2 separate regions of the Homo sapiens genome follow, and region 2 is linked to region 1. The links come from fine-mapping of genetic effects on gene expression. Tissue or cell type: whole blood. Region 1 holds a variant in brackets; the other region holds the start of a gene. All regions are shown on one strand. Distances are between the middles of the regions.

What was found. PIP is the estimated chance that this variant, and not a neighbour inherited with it, causes the effect.
Region 2: it holds the start of THEMIS, and the variant in region 1 is the best candidate, but not a certain one, in a credible set for the expression of THEMIS in whole blood (INTERVAL, PIP 0.63).

The regions. Positions count from the first base shown.
Region 1 is chr6:127,650,197-127,661,306 of GRCh38, reverse strand. It overlaps the pseudogene LOC100421513. Among named protein-coding and RNA genes, the nearest start is that of LINC02536, 8.1 kb to the left of the region's middle. The variant G/A (reference allele first, on the strand shown) is at 5,292.
Region 2 is chr6:127,896,272-127,907,381 of GRCh38, reverse strand. It overlaps THEMIS (thymocyte selection associated), which reads left to right and starts at 6,324. Exons shown (of 6, transcript NM_001010923.3): 1 at 6,324-6,540. The coding sequence starts at 6,450.

The sequences.
Region 1 (11,110 bases):
CAAAATGATGGCCTTTTCATTAGGGTAAAGAGAGAGTTTCAGTCATCACACCCACAGTCTAAGTAAGACATCACTCTGATAGGCTGCCTTTGTCCAGTATAAGTAGGAACCAATCATTGTTTTAATATTACTTATATTCCTAAAGAATCTTCTGTCACTACACCAATTGTCTCATTTTCTTTTTCTTTGTATCAGAACTGTTTTATTTATTTTTTTATTATACTTTAATTTCTAGGGTACATGTGCACAATGTGCAGGCTTGTTACATAGGTATACATGTGCCATGTTGGTTTGCTGCACCCATCAACTCGTCATTTACATTAGGTATTTCTCCTATGCTATCCCTGCCTCATACCCCCCACGCCCCGACAGGTCCTGGTGTGTGATGTTCCCCGCCCTGTGTCCGTGCATTCTCATTGTTCAACTCTTGCCTATGAGGGAGAACGTCCAGTGTTTGGTTTTCTGTCTTCGGGATAGATTGCTCAGAATGATGGTTTCCAGCTTCATCCACGTCCCTGCAAAGGACATGAACTTATCCTTCTTTATGGCCGCATAGTATTCCATGGTGTATATGTGCCACATTTTCCTAATTGATGAACACTTGGGTTGGTTCCAAGTCTTTGCTAATGTGAATTGTGCTGCAATAAACATACATGTGCATGTGTCTTTATAGTAGCATTATTTATAATCCTTTGGGTATATACTGAGTAATGGGATCACTGGGTCACAAGACAGACCTATTAAAACATTCCAGGGACATAAGAATGAAGTAAATGCTATCAAATGGGACCCAACTGGCAATCTCCTGGCCTCTTGTTCTGATGACATGACTTTAAAGATATGGAGTATGAAACAAGACAATTGTGTCCATGATTTGCAAGCACATAATAAAGAAATTTATCCTATCAAATGGAGTCCAACAGGACTTCATCCACATCCCTGCAAAGGACATGAATTTATCCTTGTCCTGCTTTATTAGGAGGGATTTCAATATCTCCATCCACTTCCATCGTATCAGTATGATTATTTGCTATAATATGTGCTCCATTCTCCTCCCCATTTGCTGTGTTTTCTGCATTTTTTTTTTTTTTTTTTTTTTTTTTTTTTTTTGCAGATCCTTGTTGGTTGGCTGTGGCAGCTGCTGCCTGTTGCTGTTTAAGCTTATCGCTATAAGCTTGTTGTCTTGTTTGTACTACATCAGGCATTAAGGCGTCTATCAGGGACAGACTCATTGGTCGACCATCAAAGAAAGTACCATCCTCATTAATACTAACTTCTGCTTCTACATACTGTAGACCTTTCTGGATGATAGAAATCAATGCAGCAGGTGGGACGAGGGCACCATTTATATTGGACTGACTGATACGGCTTTCTATACCGAAGGTAAATGCTGAATGAGAAGCCTGTGTACAGTGTAGCTTTCAGTCCTGATGGCCGGTATCTGGCCAGCAATTCTTTTGACAAATGTGTACACATCTGGAACACACAGACAGGTGCTCTAGTTCACACTGTAGGGGAACAGATGGAATTTTTGAAGTTTGCTGGAATGCCGCAGGAGACAAAGTTGGAGCCAGTGCATCAGATGGTTCAGTTTGTGTATTAGACTTTCGGAAATAGCGCTACTAGTTGGAAGCCATGGACCAACTATGAATGTGTACATAGCCAAAATGACTGTCCCTGACCCACGTACTGCTATAGTCCCACTTGAACCATGGCCAGTCGACTACAGCCAAATCTAAAAGAAATATAGGCTGGGCGCAGAGGCTCATGCTTGTAATCCCAGCACTTTGGGAGACAGAGGCAGACGGATCAAGGGTCAGGAGTTCGAGACAAGCCTGGCCAATATGGTGAAACCCTGTCTCTTCTAAAAATACAAAAATTAGCCGGGCATGGTGGTGCGTGCCTGTAGTCCCAGCTACTCGGGAGGCTGAGACAGGAGAATCGCTTGAACCTGGGAGGCGGAGGTTGCAGTGAGCAGAGATTGTGCCACTGCACTCCAGACTAGGCAACAGAGCGAGACTCCTTCTCAAAAAAAAAAAAGAAAAGAAAAGAAAAACAGAAAGAAATATATACATACAATGTATATAAACAAAATTGCACCCTGAAGATGACAGTTTTGTCACAGCTTGTGAATTCTGTTCACCAAGTGCTGGAATCTAATCTACTGTGCCCCTAAAATAGCATTTAGAAGTTTTGGATATGAAAAACAGAAGAGAGAAAAATACACATTATAAAAGCAGAACATACATGTACCAGTTTTTGGATACCACCTGACAGCCTCGTTTCTCCCCTTTGAATCCGCAGACACCAAGGATTATATTCTTTTTTCCCTTCAGTAGTGAGCAGTTTGTATGTACAGAGAAAATGGACACAAAAACTTGCAGTGGTAGTTTGTTCTTGCTTTAAAATTTTGTTTTTGGTTTAGATTATGGGTGCATGAAGTAAGGGAATGAATCAGTTTCTTGTTTATATTTTTTCAGCTTTTAAACAACAAAAAATTCTTTAAAATATTTTAATGCATTCTTTTGAAGAGGTAGATGTTTGGTACATTTTATGGCTCCCAGAGCACATATTCAATTGGTGCATGTTGTGGAAGGGAGAATTGGAAATTAAATGAAAACATGACTTTGGTCATGTCAGTCTGTAAGACACATCCATAAAAGGTGTATTATGTTCTGTTGGTTTTGGTTCTTTGTTTGTTTGTTTTTTCTTTTTAGGCGATGTGGCATAAATGCAATAGTTTCTTTTGGGGGACATATTTCTACCAATTAAAGACTAGAAGGGCACAAAATGTTGTTGTTGTTGTTTTAATTACCATAGAGAAAATACCTTTTTAAAAAATTGGCTGGATGCAGTGGCTCACACCTATAATCCCAGCACTTTGGGAGGCCAAGGCGGGTGAATCACCTGAGGTCAGGAGTTCTTGACCAGCCTGGCCAAGATGGTGAAACACCATCTCTACCAAAAATACAAAAATTAGCCAGGCGCAGTGGCGGGCGCCTGTAATCCCAGCTACTCAGGAGGCTGAGGCAGGAGAATCGCTTGAACCCGGGAGGCGGAGGTTGCAGTGAGCAGAGATCGCGCCACTGCACTCCAGCCTGGGTGACAGAGCGAGACGCCAACTCAAAAAAAAAAAAAAAAAAAAAAAAAAAAAAAAAAAAACCACTTCTGATGTTTTGTAGCCATAAATAAATTATGGTAAAAATGTGCACTATTGTGAAAAGGAGCAAAGTAGTTTTGGGTTTTTTGTTGTTTGTTTGTTTGTTTGTTTGTTTTGCTTTTTTTTTGAGAGATTGAAATGTTTCTGGGTAAGGATTCGCTTCTCGAATTGTCTATCATTCTGTGTAGAAGCTTAAATATGTAATGTAACCAAACTCCACTATTAGAAATCTCTCATGTTGTTTTCTTTATACAAAGCAAGATAACGGCATATAACACTTCCATTACATGGCAAAATGTTTGCTACCTTAGTTTAAAAAACAATCTCTAAAACAAAAGACTTGCTTCAAGGTGTTTTTAAATAGCAGTGATTGCGATTTTTTTTTTTATGAAAGTATAATTGCACTAACCTTCTGCCTGCTGCTCTGATTCTGCACTTGTGATACTTGTGACTACATTTTTTCAAATATAGATAGATTTAAGCAGCTAATTTTTGTTTCAGTATCACTACTTTATCATGTCTTTTACTCTGTTTATAATATCAAGTATTTTCTTAAAGACATAGACATTAAATTAAACCTCTTGTTCTCATGCAACTAAGAGTAACATATACAGACAAACGATTGCATGAGGCCATGTTTATAAGTGTGACTAATAAGGCTTGTCATGATTAGTATAATCCAGGTATGTCATCTCTAAAGAGAAAGGTCATCAAATTTATATCTCAAAGATTTTAATCAAGGAATTCCTTATTGTTGAGCTTGGCAAATTAATAACACTATTTCTGTCATGAATTATTTTGAGGCCTTTTAGTACTAAAGTTTAAGTAGAAACTGGCTTAACCCAAGGAATGCAACTTTGATTTTCAGCAATTGTTGCTTTGCTATTTTTACAAAACAGCATTGATTGAAGCAACTCTTGGTTTTACCAAGGTAGGGTAGCATTTGCTATTGGTAGAGATTATAAATACACTTAATTTCACAATACATTGTTATATGTATCCCAGTTGTTGTTAGTGGGGACTATGATACCGTAATAATATTTTTAAAAATTTACATACAGGCCTGGCGCGGTGGCTCATGCCTGTAATCCCAGCACTTTGGGAGGCCAAGGTGGGCAGATCACGAGGTCAGGTGTTGGAGACCAGCCTGGCCAACATAGTGAAACCCCGTCTCTACTAAAAATACAAAAATTAGCCGGGTGAGGTGGCATGCGCCTGTAGTCCCAGCTACTCAGGAAGCTGAGGCAGGAGAATCGCTTGAACCCAGGAGGCGGAGGTTGCAGTGAGCCGAGACCACACCATTGCACTCCAGCCTGGATGACAGAGTGAGACTCCATCTCAAAAAAAAAAAAAAATTTGCATCAGTAGAGGCAGTCATTCACGATGGTTTTGTGCCAGCTCTTTTTAGGGTTTTGAATCACATTAGAGATATTTAGAACTTCTTAACCTGTGACTTCTGTAGGAAACCTAATATGCTGAATATCTGGCACTTGAATTCCTGCTTTTATTGCTAGAGGTCCACATCTGTGGTTGATCTCTGTTATTGTTTAAAAATTAAAATTAAAATTAAAAAAAATCTGTGCAAGAATTTTGAAATGTGGTCCCAGCAATAGACCCAAATGTTTTGAGTATCTTTTAAGTTGCATTTTCCTTTAGCAATGCATTTGTCAATTGCACTGAATTTAAACCTGAAAGTCAGAGGTGATTATTGACAGTACTTTTGTATTTTTATATGGACAATTTATTCGTTTGCATTCAGTTATTGACTTTTCCCCAGCTGATCAAAAGATAGTCAAGAAATTCTGCAATATAGCTGCCAAAAGAGACAGCTACATTTTTATTATATTGTCATCTTTTTTTTTTTTCCTGTAGCTATTTTACTTAAGCATAGTAGCCACAATAGGACATACAAAAGGACATATAAAAGACTATAAATACAGAGCTTTATCATCCTGACGTCTTGGGTCTTTTAAGTATACGCTTTTCTGAAAGGCATCCATCTGGTAGGCTTGGGTTCTTCATGAGCATACGATTGTTTATTTTTGCTGCTGTTCTCAACCTCATCATTGCCTGTTGATGTGCCAAGATGCTGCTCCAATAGATAGAAATAAGATTGTCTCTAATTTGAGCA[G/A]TAACACGATTGCAAGAGATGAAGTTTCACACCTTGTAAATTTCTGTATTTGGGATTCTCGCTCATTTTTCCACCTGTGTTTTTCTGAGAACTTATTTCTGATGATCAATTGAATCCAGTAGTTTTTGTTTGCTATTCATTGTTGTATAAGCTACTGTAAGAAACTTACAAGGAAAAATAGAAGGGAAAACTTGAATGAATACTAATTGATTAAAATGAAATAAAGAAAGAGTAGCTGCTACTTTTAAACAACATAAAGGAATATCTTTTTTCGCCTTCATGTAGGAAATCCCATAAGTTCTTATATTTGTTCCAATCCCTATTTCCTGCCATTGACCAGGTAACATCATTGACTTTCAAAAGACTTTTAAACTGGTAACTCTTAACTTCCTAATAGATATTAGAGTGTATTGAATTGTTTTAATTATTCTCTAGGTAAGTATGTTTTAGGATTAAATACCTTTTACAGATACTGAAAGTGACTCCTCTTGTGGTGTAAAAAACAAATTATGGTGCAAAAAGTAATCACTAGATTGAATTACCTGAAGGTATTTTTGCTTTTTGACATATGAAAATGTCAAGAGAAAGGCCAAAGATCTGTAGTTTTTCACTTATAAAACACTCCTTTTTTCCTTAAACTTCTTTCTGTCAAATTAGATTTAATGAGAGAGTACTCTTTTTAAGGAGCTATCAGTTTATGTAGAATGATTTTGTTAAGAGTAATGTAAACTATTATTGAGTAGAGGCCTAAAGGGCACTGTGCATTTTTGCTATTTAAAGGAATCACAAATGACCATAATTAAGTGAGCAAAAATGACAAGTTTTACTAGATAAGTAGACAAATAAATCTCAAATGCAGTGCTACAATTTTCATTATCTTCAGCACATTGTACATTTCTACAGAACCTGTTATTATTCTCACATGCTAAGGATGGTACTTGCATATGGTGAATTACTGTTGACAGTTTCCGCAGAAATCCTATTTCAGTGGACCAACATTGTGGCATGGCAGCAAATGCCAACATTTTGTGGCATAGCAGCAAATCTACAAGACACCCTGGTTAGTTTTTTGTTTTGTTTTCTTTGTTTTTTCCCCCTTCTCCTGAATCAGCAGGGATGGAAGGAGGGTAGGCAAGTTATGAATTACTGCTTCTAGTAGTAGCTCTGAAGTGTCACATTTAATATCAATTTTTTAAAACATGATTCTAGTTAAATGTAGAAGAGAGAAAAAAGAGAAAGTGTTCACTTTTTGAATACACTGATTTAGAAATGTGATGTCTTATATCAGTAGTTCTGAGGTATTGATAGCTTTCTTTATTTCTGCCTTTACGTTAACAGTGTTGAAGCAGGGTAAATAACTAGGGCATTTTTTTTTTCTAGTGAGCTGTTTCGTGATGTTTTCTTTAGAATTTCTGGGTAAGTTCAGGAAAATATTCTGCATGTTGTATCTAGTCTGATGTACTTATCCATCTCATTACAAACAAAAACACGCAGACTGCATTTCGTACCACTGTAATCCTTGAATACAGAAGTAAATTTTCTTCTTTCCTGACTTTGACATTGTAGCTATACTGTTTTCATTTTTATTTTTACAAATCTTTGAGTCTAATTCTTTGAGCCTACCTATAGCACTGGATTAAAATGTCTGCATCATTTCTTTAGTTATCCTGTTAACTTTAAAACTGTTGCAAAAGTTTAAACCAGCCCATGACAGTTTTTTGTACATGTTAAAGAAATTCATTGATCAGTTTTCGTGATTATTGTATAAGGAAGACTGATATAGATGTTCTATGCTGTCCTGGACCATGTTAATTATGCTTATGATGTATTTTGGTTCCACATCACAATGATTTGTCCCCAGGGACCCTTTTATCCTTTCTAGGTACATTTTCGTTGTTGTTGTTGTGTTGTTGCAGTTTCCCTTTGAGAAAGAAAATCTTAAAAATCAACTGAAACAGAAAAGACACAATTTTAAAAACAGGCAAAAGACATGAAAAGGAAATTTGTAAAATAGATATTCAAATGCTACTTTAACATGAAAAAATGCTCAACTTTATTGTTTTACAATATGTGACAATTCATACAGTCTATCGTCAACCAGGGAAGCACACTCAAGCCCAGTGTGTCCAGAGTTTCTATTGGAGGTAAGTCAAATAGGTATGATTGACTTCCTGGGTACTTGACCTGAACCTCCAGCCCCTGCACAGGTCTGGCTGGTACTGCATGAACCAAGGCCCACTCCATAAATTATATTGTTCACACAGACTGTATGGGGTGCCCAAGGCCCCAAGTAAACAAAGACACTCTTATCAGGCACAATATTCCAAGAGCTTAGATGTTGCCTCTTAATAGCCAGGTATAAATAAAAATAAAATTTCAACACCCTCTAATTTTTTTTTACTTTTAATTTCAGGGGTACATAGGTAGGATGCACAGGTTCGTTACATAGGTAAACATGTGTCATGGAGTTTGTTGTATAGATTATTTCATCATCCAGGTATTAAGCCTAGTATCTATTAGTTATTTTCATGATCTTCTCCCTCCCCCACCTCTCCTCCTTCTGGTAGGCCCCAGTGTGTGTCGTTCTTCTCTATGTGTCCATGTGTTCTCATCATTTAGCTCTCACTTACAAGTGAAAACATGTGGTATTTGGTTTTCTCTTCCAGCATTAGTTTGCTAAGGATAATTGCCTCCAGCTCCATCCATTTTCCTGCAAAGGACATGATCTCATTCATTTTTATGGCTGCATAGTATTCTGTAGTGTATACGTATCACATTTTCTTTATCCAGTCCACCACTGATGGGCATTTAGGTTGATTCCATGTCTTTACTATTGTGAATAGTGCTGCAATGAACATAAACATGCATGTGTCTTTATAATAGAATGATTTATATTCCTTTGGGTATGTACCCAGCATATTAGTCCATTTTCATGCTACTGATAATGACATACCCAAGATGGGAAGAAAAAGAGGTTTACTTGGACATACAGTTCCATATGGCTGGGGAGGCCTCAGAATCTGGTGGGAGGTGAAAGGCACTTCTTACAGTGTGGCAGCAAGAGAGAATGAGGAAGAAGCAAAAGCAGAAACCCCTGACAAATCCATCAGATCTCATGAGACATTTTCACTATCATGAGATTAGCATGAGAAAGACCAGCCCTCATGATTCAATTGCTTCCCCCTGGGTCCCTCTCACAATATGTGGGAATTCTGGGAGATACAATTCAAGTTGAGATTTGAATGGAAACATAGCCAAACCGTATCTCTCAGTAATGGAATTGCTGGGTCCAATGGTATTTCTGTCTTTAGGTCTTTGAGGAATCACCACACTGTCTTCAACGATGGTTGAACCAATTTAATTTACACTTCCACCAACAGTGTATGTGTTCTTTTCCTCCACAACCTCCCCAGCATCTGCTATTTTTTGACTTTTTATTAATAGCCATTCTGACTGGTGTGAGAAGGTATCTCATGGTGGCTTTGATTTAAATTTCTCTAATAATCAGTGATGTTGAGCTTTGTTTACATAATTATTGGCTCCATATATGTCTTCTTTTGAAAACTGTCTATTCATGTCTTTTGCCCACTTTTTAATAGGGTTGTTTGATTTTCTCTTGTAAATTTGTTTGAGTTCCTTATAGATGCTGGATATTAGACCTTTGTCAGATGCATAGTTTGCAAATATTTTCTCACATTTTGTAGGTTGCCTGTTTACTCTGTTAATCATTTCTTTTGCTGTGCAGAAGCTCTTAAGTTTAATTAGATCCCATTTGTCAATTTTTGCTTTTGTTGAGGTTGCACCAGGTGTCTTTGTCATAAAATCTTTACCCATTCTTATGTCCAGGATGGTATTACCTAGGTTGTCTTCCAGGATTGTTATAGTTTTGGGTTTTACATTTAAGTCTTTAATCCATCTTTAGTTGATTTTTGTATATGGTGTAAGAAAGGGGTCTAACTTCAATCTTTTGCATATGGCTAGCCTGTTATCCCAGCACCGTTTATTGAATAGGAAGTCTTCACTCCATTGCTTGTTTTTGTCAGTTTTGTTAAAGATCAGATGGTTGTAGGTGTCTGGCCTTATTTCTGGGTTCTCTATTCTGTTCTATTGGTCTATGTGCCTGCCCTTGTACCAGTACCATGCTGTTTTGGTTACTGTAGCCCTATAGTATAGTCTGAGGTCAAGTAGTGCGATGCCTCTGGCTTTGTTCTTTTTGCTTAGGATTGCCTTGGCTAACTGTATTCCTTGGAAATAAATTAACAGAGACTTGTGCTTCATCCCTCCCTAAGCAGAATGTCCATGGTAATTATTAACTTACACCAGATTTCTTTACACATAGGTTAACAACCTATATCAGATCTCCTAGTAAACAAGTGGCTGAATAACAGAGATTCAGTCTATAAAAATGCTTTTTATTCAGATGGCATGCACCAGGACAGTTATTGCAAATAAACATAACGCTTATGGATTTCTGAGGCAGAGCTGGTGATGGGAGTTAATCATATAGGCATTTCTTTATCTGTGTAAGTAACAAAGCATAAAGCTGGGGAGCCCCAAAACTGAAATTGATGTCTTTGAAAACAATGTATTTGCATATATTCTTCAGAAATGTCTGTTAATCCAAGTTGAAACTGCACATTACTTTAGGGAAAAAAAAGACAATTAGGATGCAGTGTATGAATAACTCCCTGTCATCTAAAACTAAATTCTGTCCATGTCTACTTCTGGCTTGAATCCTTAAAATCATTAGTTAAGATTGAGGTTGGAAAATTTTATGATTCATGTGAATTTGCTTTGACATTGTGTTAACATATTCATAATAAGAGAAATGCAAATGAATACTAGGATACCATTTCTCTGCTCTAAAATTAGCAAAAAGATGGACAACTTAAAAGCGTTATTACTGGTGCAGAGAAAAATATTACAACCCTTGCAGGAGAATTCAGCCATATATAACAAACCAACATATACCCTCATCTTTTAAACTTAATTTTTCAATAATTATAGATTTATAGTAAAGTGAAAAGAAATAATACAGGGAGTTCACGTGTACCCTTTCACCTATACTTTCCCAATGTCACCATTTTACATTATCAACATCAGACTGTTGACATTGGTTCACTACCAAAATCAAGATATTAAATACTTAACCATCCATTACCACAAGACTTCCTCATCCTACCTACTTATATCCACACCCACCCTACATCCCACCCTGAGCCCTGGCAATAACTAATATGTACTTCATGGCAATACTTAAGCTATTTCACAAGTGTTATGTAAATGAAAACATGCAACCTGTTTCCTTTTGATATTAGCCTTTTTTGCCATTAAAAACAATTTCCTTAAGGTTCATTCAAGTTGCTGCGTGTATTAATGGTTCATTCCCTTTTATTTCTGAGTTTATGCCATAGATATACCACCTTTGCTTAATTATTCAACCACCGAAGCACATTTGGGCTTCTGAGTACTACAAATTAAGGTGCTGTGAATATCTATTCGTAATTTTCTGAGGGAAAATAAGTTATTTCTCTGAGATGTATGCCTAAGAGGGTAATTGCCAGGTCATATGGTAGGTCCATTTTAGTTTATAAATAACCTCCAAATTATTTCTCACAGTTGATGTACCACATATGAGTGACACTCTCCCCACATCCACACTAGTGTTTGTGTTATCATTATTGCTTTTATTTTAGCCATTCTGATGAGCATTAGTCATATCTTATTGTGGTTTTAGTTTTTATTTCTTCAATGGCCAATGATGTTACACATCTTTGCATGTGCTTATTTGGCATCAGTATCTCTTCTATCAAATGTCT
Region 2 (11,110 bases), 250 kb before region 1:
AAATGTCGCTCATGCAAAAAAAAAAAAAAAAAAAAAAAAAAAAATCCGAGCCTAATGCCCTAATGGTATTGTATGATTCCCCAGAGCAAGCTTATTTTGTAGGTAGAAATGCTGTAAACCTTTCAATGACGAACCAATAAATGGCACCTTTTGGTTAATCCAAAATCACAGGAGTGATTCCTATAAGCCTAATTTTTTCTTCTTTAGAAATAACCAATGAAAAGAAAGTTTCAGAGAATGAATGATTTAGATACCAGTCAGAATAATCTCTAAGATTTCTTCGTTTTTGTTTTTTTCCGATACTATCTACTTGGAGATAAGGGTTTATTCTTTACTCAAAGAAATATTACATTGCACTGAAATATTATAATATAGTTTTAAGCCTCTACTGCTGAAGCTTATTTCTCTGCTTGTGAATTTTTTTTTTTGTTTTTTAACATTCAGACAGTTCTACTTACTTTTTAGGAAAGCAGCTATAGAGAATCTAACAAACGAATTGGTATTTTACGTAAAGTTTGCTTTGAGCCATTTTTCTTTTCTTTTTCTTTTCAACAATACTTCTCTTGGGATAGAAATCATTGGCAATAATGATACTAACTATAATTTAATCATCATTTCATAGCCAAGTCCTTCTCTGTTCTTTAGCAGAAATTTTAAAAAGATGTGTTAAGTAGTAGCAAGACTGGTGTGAGGACAATATTTTTTTTCCAACAGGAACTTCCCTGTTTGAATTATTAGGGTAATGTGAAATGCATTTTCTTTTCTTTTCTCCTCCTTTTTTTGGTCATTAAAGTAATAAATGCTTCAGTTGATGGTATAAATAAATCTTTGTGTGTATCTGATTATATCTAAATGTGAAATTGCTACATCAAATTGATTTCAAGATAGATCACAACAGTTTGTAATATAGATGAGTGACTAAACATTGCACCATTAACAGTATGAATTTTATGAAATAAATATTTGCTTTTTCTGTCAGGTTGGTTTTTACTCTGATTCCATTCATTTGGTCAATTTTGCTTTAGATATTTTGAAGGTATATTATTGAAAGCTGTGAATTTTCTTTAAGAATTGGTCACCCTTTCATTATTAAACAAATAACCTTATTATCTTTTATAATCCTTCTTGTCTTTAAATCTAATTGATGTAATATTGATGTAGTTTCATGAGCTTTCTTTTGCTTAATGTCTTATGGTATTTATTTTCCCATTTTTTCATCTTTAGACTTTCTATAAACTTATAACTAAATTGTATATTTTTAAGTAGATTTATGTGTTTAAATGTTATCTGCCAACATTAGTTTATTACTTGAACTATTAAACTATTTAATTTTTATTTGTAAAAATTATTTCATTTAAATTATTTAATTTAAATTACATTTAAATTATTTCATTTAATTACATTTAAATTATTTCATTTAAATGTAATTATTTCATTTAAATTATTTTAAGAGTATAATTGAGTTTATGTATACCATCATAATGTTTGCTAGCAATTTTGAGGTTCTTTTTCTTTTCTTTCTCGTCTTTTTTGGATTAATTAATTTTATCATTCATTTACCATTTTTAGTGGCTTTCCTAGAAATTACATGTGTTTTTATTTATTTAACTCTGATATTAAACATCACTTTTGCAACTTCTCTAGAAGGCTAATGCTTTAGAACATTTTAACTTCATTATCAGTTTTGCTTTTGCATTACTGCTATATTTTACAATATATTGCATGAACTATATATAGTGCAGATATATTCAAAACTCCACAAGCCATTAATTATTGTTTTGGGAACTCAATATATTCAGTTCACTGACATATTCACCCTCTTCATTCCTTCCTGTGGTCTTGACTTTCTGTCTGAGATCATTTTACTTTCGCCTGCAGAACACCCTTTATAGTATTTCTTTTAGTGAGAGTTTACTGGTGATGAATTTTCTTAGTTTTTGTTTGTCTGAAAATGTCTTTATTTTGCTGTTGCTTTCATGCGTCTCTGGATTTAGAATATCAAGTTGGTAGTTGGTTTCTTTCAGCATTTTAATGATGGTATTCCATTGTGTTCTACCCTTATTGGTTTTTGTTAGTAAGTCAGCTATCATCTTATTGGTGATCCTTTGAAAGTGACAATTTCTTTTCTTCAGAGTGCATTTAAGATATTCTCTTTGACTTTGGCTTTTTAACGTTTTAGTATGATGTTCCTTAGTGTGCCTTCTTTTGCATTTATCCTCCTTGGTGGTGTTGGCAAGGCTTGAATCTATGGATTGATGCCTTTTTCAACTTTGGAAAATCTTCAGCTATTATCTCTTAAAATATTTCTTCTCCCACTATTATTTCTCCTCTCACGTTGGGACTCAGTTTACATATAAGATCTTTCCACTATGGCTGAAATATCTCTCTGCAGAGACACAGAGATAGATAGATAGAGAGAGAGAGAGTGAGAGAGAAAGAGAGAGAGCAGATATTTCCTACGCTCCCATTTCCAGTTCAACAATCCTCTCTTACTGTATGTCCCATTTGCTGTTAAAACCAATTATTGAATTTTTAATTTCAGTTACTGTATTTTTTAACTCTAGAATTTTCATCCGATACTTTCTATAGATGGCAGTTCTTTTCTCCTTCTTGTCTTCTAGTTTTGAACATGTTTATCAAAATTATCTTAAATTGCAGGACTAATAATTCCAATATCGGAATTACCCCATGAGTTTGTTTCTGTGGTCTCCCTTCTCTCTGTCTTTCTCTGTCCTGTCTTCTGGCATTCCCATTCATTTCATACTTAATTATAGATGTTGTATTTTTAAATATTACAGAAGTTCTGGCTGCTTTTCCTCAACAGGAGGATTTACATTTGCTTCTATCTGGCAGCAAGAATAGGGGCAGACCACTTTAATCCAATGAGGGATTGAGCTAATTTTAGTCTAAGCTTCAGTTTTTGTAAAGCTAGTTCTATTTATAGGCAACCCTTTCTCTTAGGAAGCAGCCTTCAGGAGCCCCAACTGAGAACACAGGCATTTGTTGTGACTCCTGCTCCCTCCTTGGCTGGCCCTGGCTTCCCAGTTCTGCAAGACTGCTGAAAGCACTCCTTGGCTTCTTCAGCTTCCTACCAACCATGCTCTTGTTTGTGTCTCATACAATCAACCCTGTACTGCTTTCAATGAGCAAAAAAATTTTAAGGGGAAAAAGTGGTGCTGAGCAATACCTTTCTCTGACTTTTCCTGGAGGAATTGCTACTTCCCAAAGTCCAATTTATTTTGGTCTCTTTTGCTATGTGAAACTGCCAAAAACTCAACTCAGGTTCTCTCCTCCTGAGCCACCAGTTTTTGCCTTCTCAGACTCTCTCTTGGTGCCAGTTACTAACCCATAAAAGCCTTGAGGGAAAAGAAGTGCAGAATATGGAGTTCCTCTAATGGTTCTGCTCTGCTTTACAGGATCTTGGCCTCTCATGTTCTGCACCCTGACAGCTCTCTTGTTTCTTAAAACAGCTTTTTTAAAAAGTATACAGCTCTTCTAGGTGCCTTTGGTAGAAAACGTGGTCAGATACAAGCTCATAGCCAGAAATAGAAGTCTTTGAATATTTTTATTTTGCATATTGACTAACAAGTGGCCTTTACCCACCTAAGCCATTGTTTATTTGAAGGATGTGCTTTTTTTTTTTTCTATTTTGTTCAAACTCCTTTTTGATTTACAGGAGTATTTCATAAGTTAGTTGTCAAATATATTATTAGTTTTTTCCTTCAATTACTACTCAGAAATAGTTATTTTCTTACCCTTTTCCAGACATTTTCCTATTTTTCCCCTCTGGTTTATTTTTATTTAAATTTAATTTTAAAATGTATCTAACTTTAATTTCATTGCATGGAAAGTTAGGGAAATTTTCTCCCCAATTATTTAACAACCATTTGTTGAATAAAACATTCTTTCCCACTGCCTTGGAATTTCACCTTTTTCAAATAGTAAATTATTATATACAGTCTAGTTTTTTTTTTAAAATTCTCGTTAATCTATTATTACACCTATAACATGCTGTTCTAATGACCAAACTTCAATAATTCATTTTACTTGATGATTCAAGTACTCTTGAACTCATTGCTCTTCTTTGTCAACCTTAACTTGGCTGCTCACATCAGGATTTTTTTGCCTGTGTGTCAGAAGTGATTACGATCTGGTCTAAAGCAGTAGCAGTGGGGATATAGAGCAAAGACAGAGTGAGTGGTACTGAGTATTGCCATCTATAGGGCCTGATGGATTTAACGGCTAGAGAAAAAAAATGGCATCTCACATGATTCTAAGCCTTCCGGCTTGGGAAACTAAGAGAATAGCAGTGTCATTAATTAAGACTGAGAATACGAAGATGATTATCACAGAGAGAGCGTCATCTGTCGCGAGAGCAGAAGCAGATGGAGCCTAGGTAATTGTAAGAGATTGGTGATACGAAATGGCTGTTTGGCTAGTAGGATAGAAATTTGACTTGGGAATATTAAAAAAATAAGTGATATCCAGCTTGCATTAGATATCAAATGAAATGTATTGTGGCATCAGTTCTAACGGATTCATAATTTTTAAGGAGCAGTCCACAGAAGCCTCTTTCATGTATTCATCCACATGAAATACACTACTAGGCTGTAAACTGTGGGGAGGGGTATGGAAGGCAGACAGATCAAGGGTAGGACATTTTTGGACAAAAAAGTTGCCAGTGAGGAATTTGAATCTAATGATAGTAAACCTGTTGATGTGGTCAATCGTAAATTCTACTTTTATAAAGAAAGAAATGAAGCTGGACTGATTATTGAAAATGTCAAATAGGATTACAAAGAGTTGAAACAGTTTTATAAGCTCCATATCAAAACTAGGCAGTTTTTATCTTTCTAGGTCATTTACATGATGGCCATGGTAGAACTGAGATGTCCCCTGACCCTCTGTATGTGGCTATGCTCTCTGCAGCCTAAGGCCAAAACAGTTAATAGATAAGTGCCTGGGTTTGGTTACTAAAGAAAACGTGTAGATTCCTGTCATCTTTCAAGTGTATACATACCAACCAGTATTCTTTATTTTTTTTTTTTTTTTTTTTTGAGACAGAGTCTTGCTGTGTCATTCAGCCTGGAATGCAGTGGCATGTTCACAACTCACTGTAGCCTCAAACTCCAGGGCTCAAGTGATCCTCCTTCCTCAGCCTCCTCACAGCTGGGACTACAGGCATGTGCCACCATGCCTGGCTAATTTTTTAATTTTTTTGTAGAGACAAAGTCTCACTATGTTGCCCAGGCTGGTTTTGAATTCTTGGGCTCAAGCAATTCTCCTACCTCAGCCTCCTAAAGTGCTGGGACTACAGGTATGAGCCACCGTACCCAGCCTCAACCAATATTCTTCTACTTTACCTTAAAGAGACTTAGGAACTACCACCTTTAATTGTATATATTTTAAATATTGTTTCAGTTACATGCAAAAAATAGAGAGGGGCAGGATTTTGAAGAGATCAATGTTCATGAGTTTTCTCCTGCTTCCTTTGGTGCTGATCATTTCCCCTCCTAAATTTCAACAATAAGATCAGAATTGTGGAATTGTGAACTTGGAAGAAATTATAAAATTTATTGGACTCTTCTACTTCATCTCCATTTAGTAAATAAAACAAATGAAAATCAGAGAAGACAAGGCTGACGTTAGCCTGTAAATCAAAAGCAGAACTAAACCCAGAAAATGCAGGTTTCCTGACAAGTAATTTTAATACTTTCTACTATAGTGTAGAGATTAGAAAACTCATTTTAATGTACTTTGTTAATTTACTGTATCATTTTGCATATTCTATCCCTACCCTACCCTCCTTTAAGATTCAGCAAAATTTTTAATGTGGAAGAATAAAAAGTGGTTTCAATACTCTCTCCAGAGTATAGTATCAGAATTCTAAAAAGAGCTGACGCAAAGCACTTTTATTACCAATTTTAATGTAAAGGCACTGACAGTATGCAAATAAGGCACAAAGCCAAGCTTTAGAAATGAACTAGAGAGATAATGAATTCACATGGTGCCATTTTTAAGATTAGACTTTAGTCCTATATTCCTGTTCTTTGTTGGTGGGCAAGCCACAAGCAACTCTGACCTCAGTTTTGCTACCATAGTAGATGCACACCTGGATTAACAAAGGACAGAATGCGCTACTTAGCACGTCTCATTTTTTGGGCAGTGTCTGTTCACCCCACCCCCATCCTGTTCAACTTCAATGTCAGAAGGAAATGAAGCCACAATGTGAACAAAAAGAGCTATAACATTTTTTGTCTCCTGCTTCCCCCCTCCCTCTTCATTGTCCTCCCCACATAGAGCTACTCCACCCCACTCTGGCTGTAGTGTGACATTCCTGCCTGCCTGAGGAAGAAATGGTGAGCAGGGGCTGCAATTGCAGACAAGTGTCACCCAGAAGCCACAAGTTTCTGTGAGCACCAGGTCTACAAACTACCCAAGGCATAGCAATGGCATTATCACTGGAAGAATTCGTCCACTCCCTTGACCTCAGGACCCTACCCAGGGTTCTAGAAATCCAGGCAGGCATCTATCTTGAAGGTAAGCACTCTCCAATACCTTTACTGGCTAGAACATTCTTGTAAAGTATACATTTTTGAAAATTGGAGGGGGGGAATTTTAACAGCAAATATGTGAGTTCTGGTAAAGGAAAGGCGATCACAAAAGAAAGTAATGAACTGACCAACGAATCGTCAAAAGCCAATGGTGTTGGAGAGGGGAGAAACTAGACAGGACTCTGGGACAGACAGAAATAAGGAATTGAGTGAAGCTTCTTGAGCTTTCTGTAGGCCTTGAATGGTGAACTATTTCTGCCTTTGCTTTGAAATTGGTTGTAATCAAGAATAATAAATTTAGTTATCAATATTTATGTTTCCACAATATAAAAAATAAAATTTAGCTTGCTAAAACAAAAGCAACTATCAAAGGCACAGTGTTTAGAAAGAAGTATTTCCAAATATTTCCCAAACTTTTAGCTCCTAAATGTTGCTTATACCAATGTTTTTCTCACTCTGTAGTGGCCTAACTCCAAATTCCTTAAATAATGAAAATTTTAATTTGAAGGTATAGAAATTATTGCTACAAGATAATTTTTAAAAATTGATGTTGAAACTCAGAGTTCAATTAAACTTATTGAATAATAAGATAGTGAGTTTTGGTGTAACTCACTATGTTAATTCAGGTGAAAGAACATTATAACCTCCAATATACAACCTAGAATCTTTACATGGTTAGTTTGAATACATAGAATACAATTAATAATTCTGTAGGTGTATTTCTGGCCTCAAGAGTGGTAGAATTGAAGCAGTTGTAGAAACAGATCAAGACAAAACTACCAGGAAAATAACTTAACTGTTGGTAGGCAGGTCTTTCTTGTTCGTAGACAAAATAATGTATTACATATTATGTTGCAAAGTAAAAGAAAGATTAACACGTCAGCTCCAGTTTTTATATATATTATATATATATATATATATATAAAATATACACACACATACTTGCAGGTGATGAATTGATATGGGCTGTTATCAGCTTAGTGTACAGTTTTATTTAACTAATTTGTAAGTTGATTTTTGGAATCAGACTATGTTTTGCCGTGTATAATCATATTATCAATGTCTCTATTTCTAAGCCAGCCCCAAATCATTTTTTGTCTCATGGTTTGTGTTTTTTAGGCTTTACGTAAAAAGTCTTTCTTTATGTCTACTTTAAAAAGATATTTTCCTATGTTGTTTTTATCAACTTTACGGTTTCATATTTTGCATTTAGTTTTTAGTCTATTTGGAGGACAATGTTATGAATTGTACAGGGATCCAATTTTAGTTTTCTCTATACAGTTCACCTGATTTCCAGGTACCATTTGCTAAGCTGACAATCTTTCCGCCATTGATTTTTGTTGCCTCCTTCAAATCATATTATATGTTCACCTCTGTATCAGTCTGTCTCTAAAATATCTCTTCTATTCCATTAGTTTATTTTTTTTCTTAGCTGCCCCCAAACACACTATTTTTGTAACTATGGCCTTGCAATACATGTTAATATAGAAATGATGTATAGACCAATCCCTTGTTTTCAATCCTTTTTTCCTAAATTGGCTTAGATATTCATAGACTTTAAAAATGTTTTTATAGATACATAATATATATACATATTTATGGGATACATGTGATATTTTGATACAGTGTGTAATAATCAAGTCAGAGTAATGGGGATATTATTCATTGCCTCAAACTTTTACCATTTCTTCATGTTAGGAACATTCCAATTCCACTACTCTAGTTGTTTTGAAATATACAGTAAATTATTTTTAGCTATAGTCACCCTATTGTACTACCAAACACTAGATCTTATTCCTTTTAACTGTGTTTCTGTACCCATTAATCAACCAACCCCTCTCTATCCCCCTCCCACTACCCTTCCCAGCACCTGGTAGCCATCATTCTACTCTCTATCTCCATGATATCAATTTTTTTAGCTCCCACAAATTAATGAGAACATGTGATATTTGTCTTTCTGTGCCTGGCTTATTTCACTTAACCTAATGTCCTTCAGTTCTATCCATGTTGTTGCAAATGACAGGATTTCATTCTTTTTTATGGCTGAATAATATTCCACATTTTATTTGTCTATTCATCTGTTGATGGACATTTAAGTTGATTTCATATTTTGGCTATTGTAAAAACATGTGAATGCAGGTATCTGTAATATATTGATATCTTTTCTTTTGAATATATATCCAGCAGTGGGATTACTAGGTTGTAAGTAGTTCTATTTTTGTGTGTGTGTGTGTGTGAAAACTTCACACTGTTTCTCATAGTGACTGTACTGATACACATTCCCATCGAGTATAAACGTTCCCTTTTCTCCACATCCTCTCAAACATCCATTATTTTTTATCTTTTTGATAAAAGCTATTTTAACTGAAGTGAGATAATATCTCATAACTTTTTCAATGAGTTTTTATTAAATCAATTGATTCTATAAGAAATCTAACTGGGATTTTTATTGGATTTATTGATTTGGTAGATTAAGTTGGAAAGAATTGACATTCTATATTGTTTTAAGAAAGAATGTAGTGTCCCTCTATGTGTCCAGACCATCTTCTTCATACCTTATTATTTTACTACTATGTTTTACTTCAATTAAGAGGGAAAAAACTAAATACCTTGATCATTTTCACAGTGTAAACACATTCATGTAACTGCCACCCTGGTCCAGAAATAGAAAATTCCAAGTATTCCAGAAGCCCTATCCTGTGCTCTTTCTCAGTCATTATATACTATCTCCCTCAAGTGTAACCACTATCATGACTTTTGTCCATTTATGACCCTTACATAAATGGAAAATTACAGTATGTATTCTTTTCTGGTTGGTATATCTGTTTAACATTATATTTGTGAAACTAATCCATGCTGTTTTATATATAGTTCATTCATTTTCAGTGTATGTTATTCCATTAGATGAATATACTACAATTTATGTATTAATTCTACTGCCAATAGGCATTTGGATTATTTCTGGCTTGGAGTTTCCAGTAATTTTGTCATGAAAATTCTTGTACATGTGTGCCTACGTGTATATGCATTAAGTAGGGCATAAAAGTAAGTAGGATTACTATGTCATATTGTGTGTGTACATTCACCCTTGGAAGCTAATGAAAAGCAAGTTTCTTAAGTAACCCAATTTACTTTCCTACAAGCAGTATATTTGTGTTCCAATTAACTCATATGCTTAGTAACACGATATTATCAGTCTTCTTAATTTTAGTCATTCTGGCAAGAGTATAGTGGTAGCTCATGGTTTTAGTTTTCATCTCCTTGATGACTAATAAGATTGAGCACCTTTTCATATATTTCTTGGATTTTTGGAAATACTCTTTTTTGCAGAGGTGGTTTATATTTCTTGCTCATTTTTCTGTTGAATTTTATACATTTTTGTTATTGATTTGATGGAGTTTATGTGTATATATATATTTGGGATATTTACTCTTTGTCAATTTTCTGTGTTGCAAATTACTTTCTTAGTCTATAGTTTCATATTTTATTTTCAAAATTGTGTCTTTTAATGGACGAAAGTTTTCCACTTTCGTGTTAGTGTAGTCAGTTTATATTTTCCTTTTTCTGTGTTGTCAACAATTTTTTTCTTTACCCTAAGTTCATGAAAATATGTATTATCTTCTAGAAATCCTATTGTTTACCCTCACCTTCAGATCTGTAGTCTATCTGGGTTTATGTTTTTGTATATGGTTTGAAGTTGAGAGCAATATTTATTTTTCTCTTCTACAGAGTCAATTGGTGCAGTGACATTTATTGAAAAGCTGCCTTTTCTCTATCATCTTACTCTGTTAACCTTACTCAGAAATAGTGTCCATACATGCCTGGGTCTTTTCCCTTTTATGCTGTTCTATTCATCTACTTGCTATCCTTACATCAATTTTTCCTGTCTTAAATAATGTGGATATGCAATATCTAATATATACTTTCTATTAGATTATATTTAATAATATGCTACAGAGCCATGGTTCTCAAACTTGGTTGTGAAATAAAAATACCTGGATTGATTTTAAAATATAAATGCCTAGGTTTCTCCTCAAGAGGTAAAGATTTAATTATGTAAAAGGTAAGGCATCACCATCAGTTTTTGAAAATCTTCCTGATGATTATAACACACAGCCAAATTTGATAACTACTGCTTTAGAACAAGTTCTCTCAATTTATTATTCCTCTTTAAGTTTAGCACTTTGAATTTTCACATACATTTTAGAATTAACTTATCAACTTCCTCAAAAGTCCTCCTGGAATTTTGATTAGCTGTGCTTTGGTTTGGAGAAAATTGGCATCATTTTAAATTAAGTCTTCTGACCCACTAATCTGGTATAGCTCTTTAGTTATTTAAGTCTATTTCATTTCTGTCAATAACATTTTATAATTTTTTGTACAGATCTTGTATTTTTTCAGATTTATTCTTAGTTATTTGATTTTTTCATGCCATTTTAAATGGTATTTTTAAAATCATTTTCTCTTTGTTGTACTTATTGAATTTTAAGAATATATCTTTAACATTTTGTATATGTTATGTGTACATTTGCATTGTCTGTGAATATTGATGGATT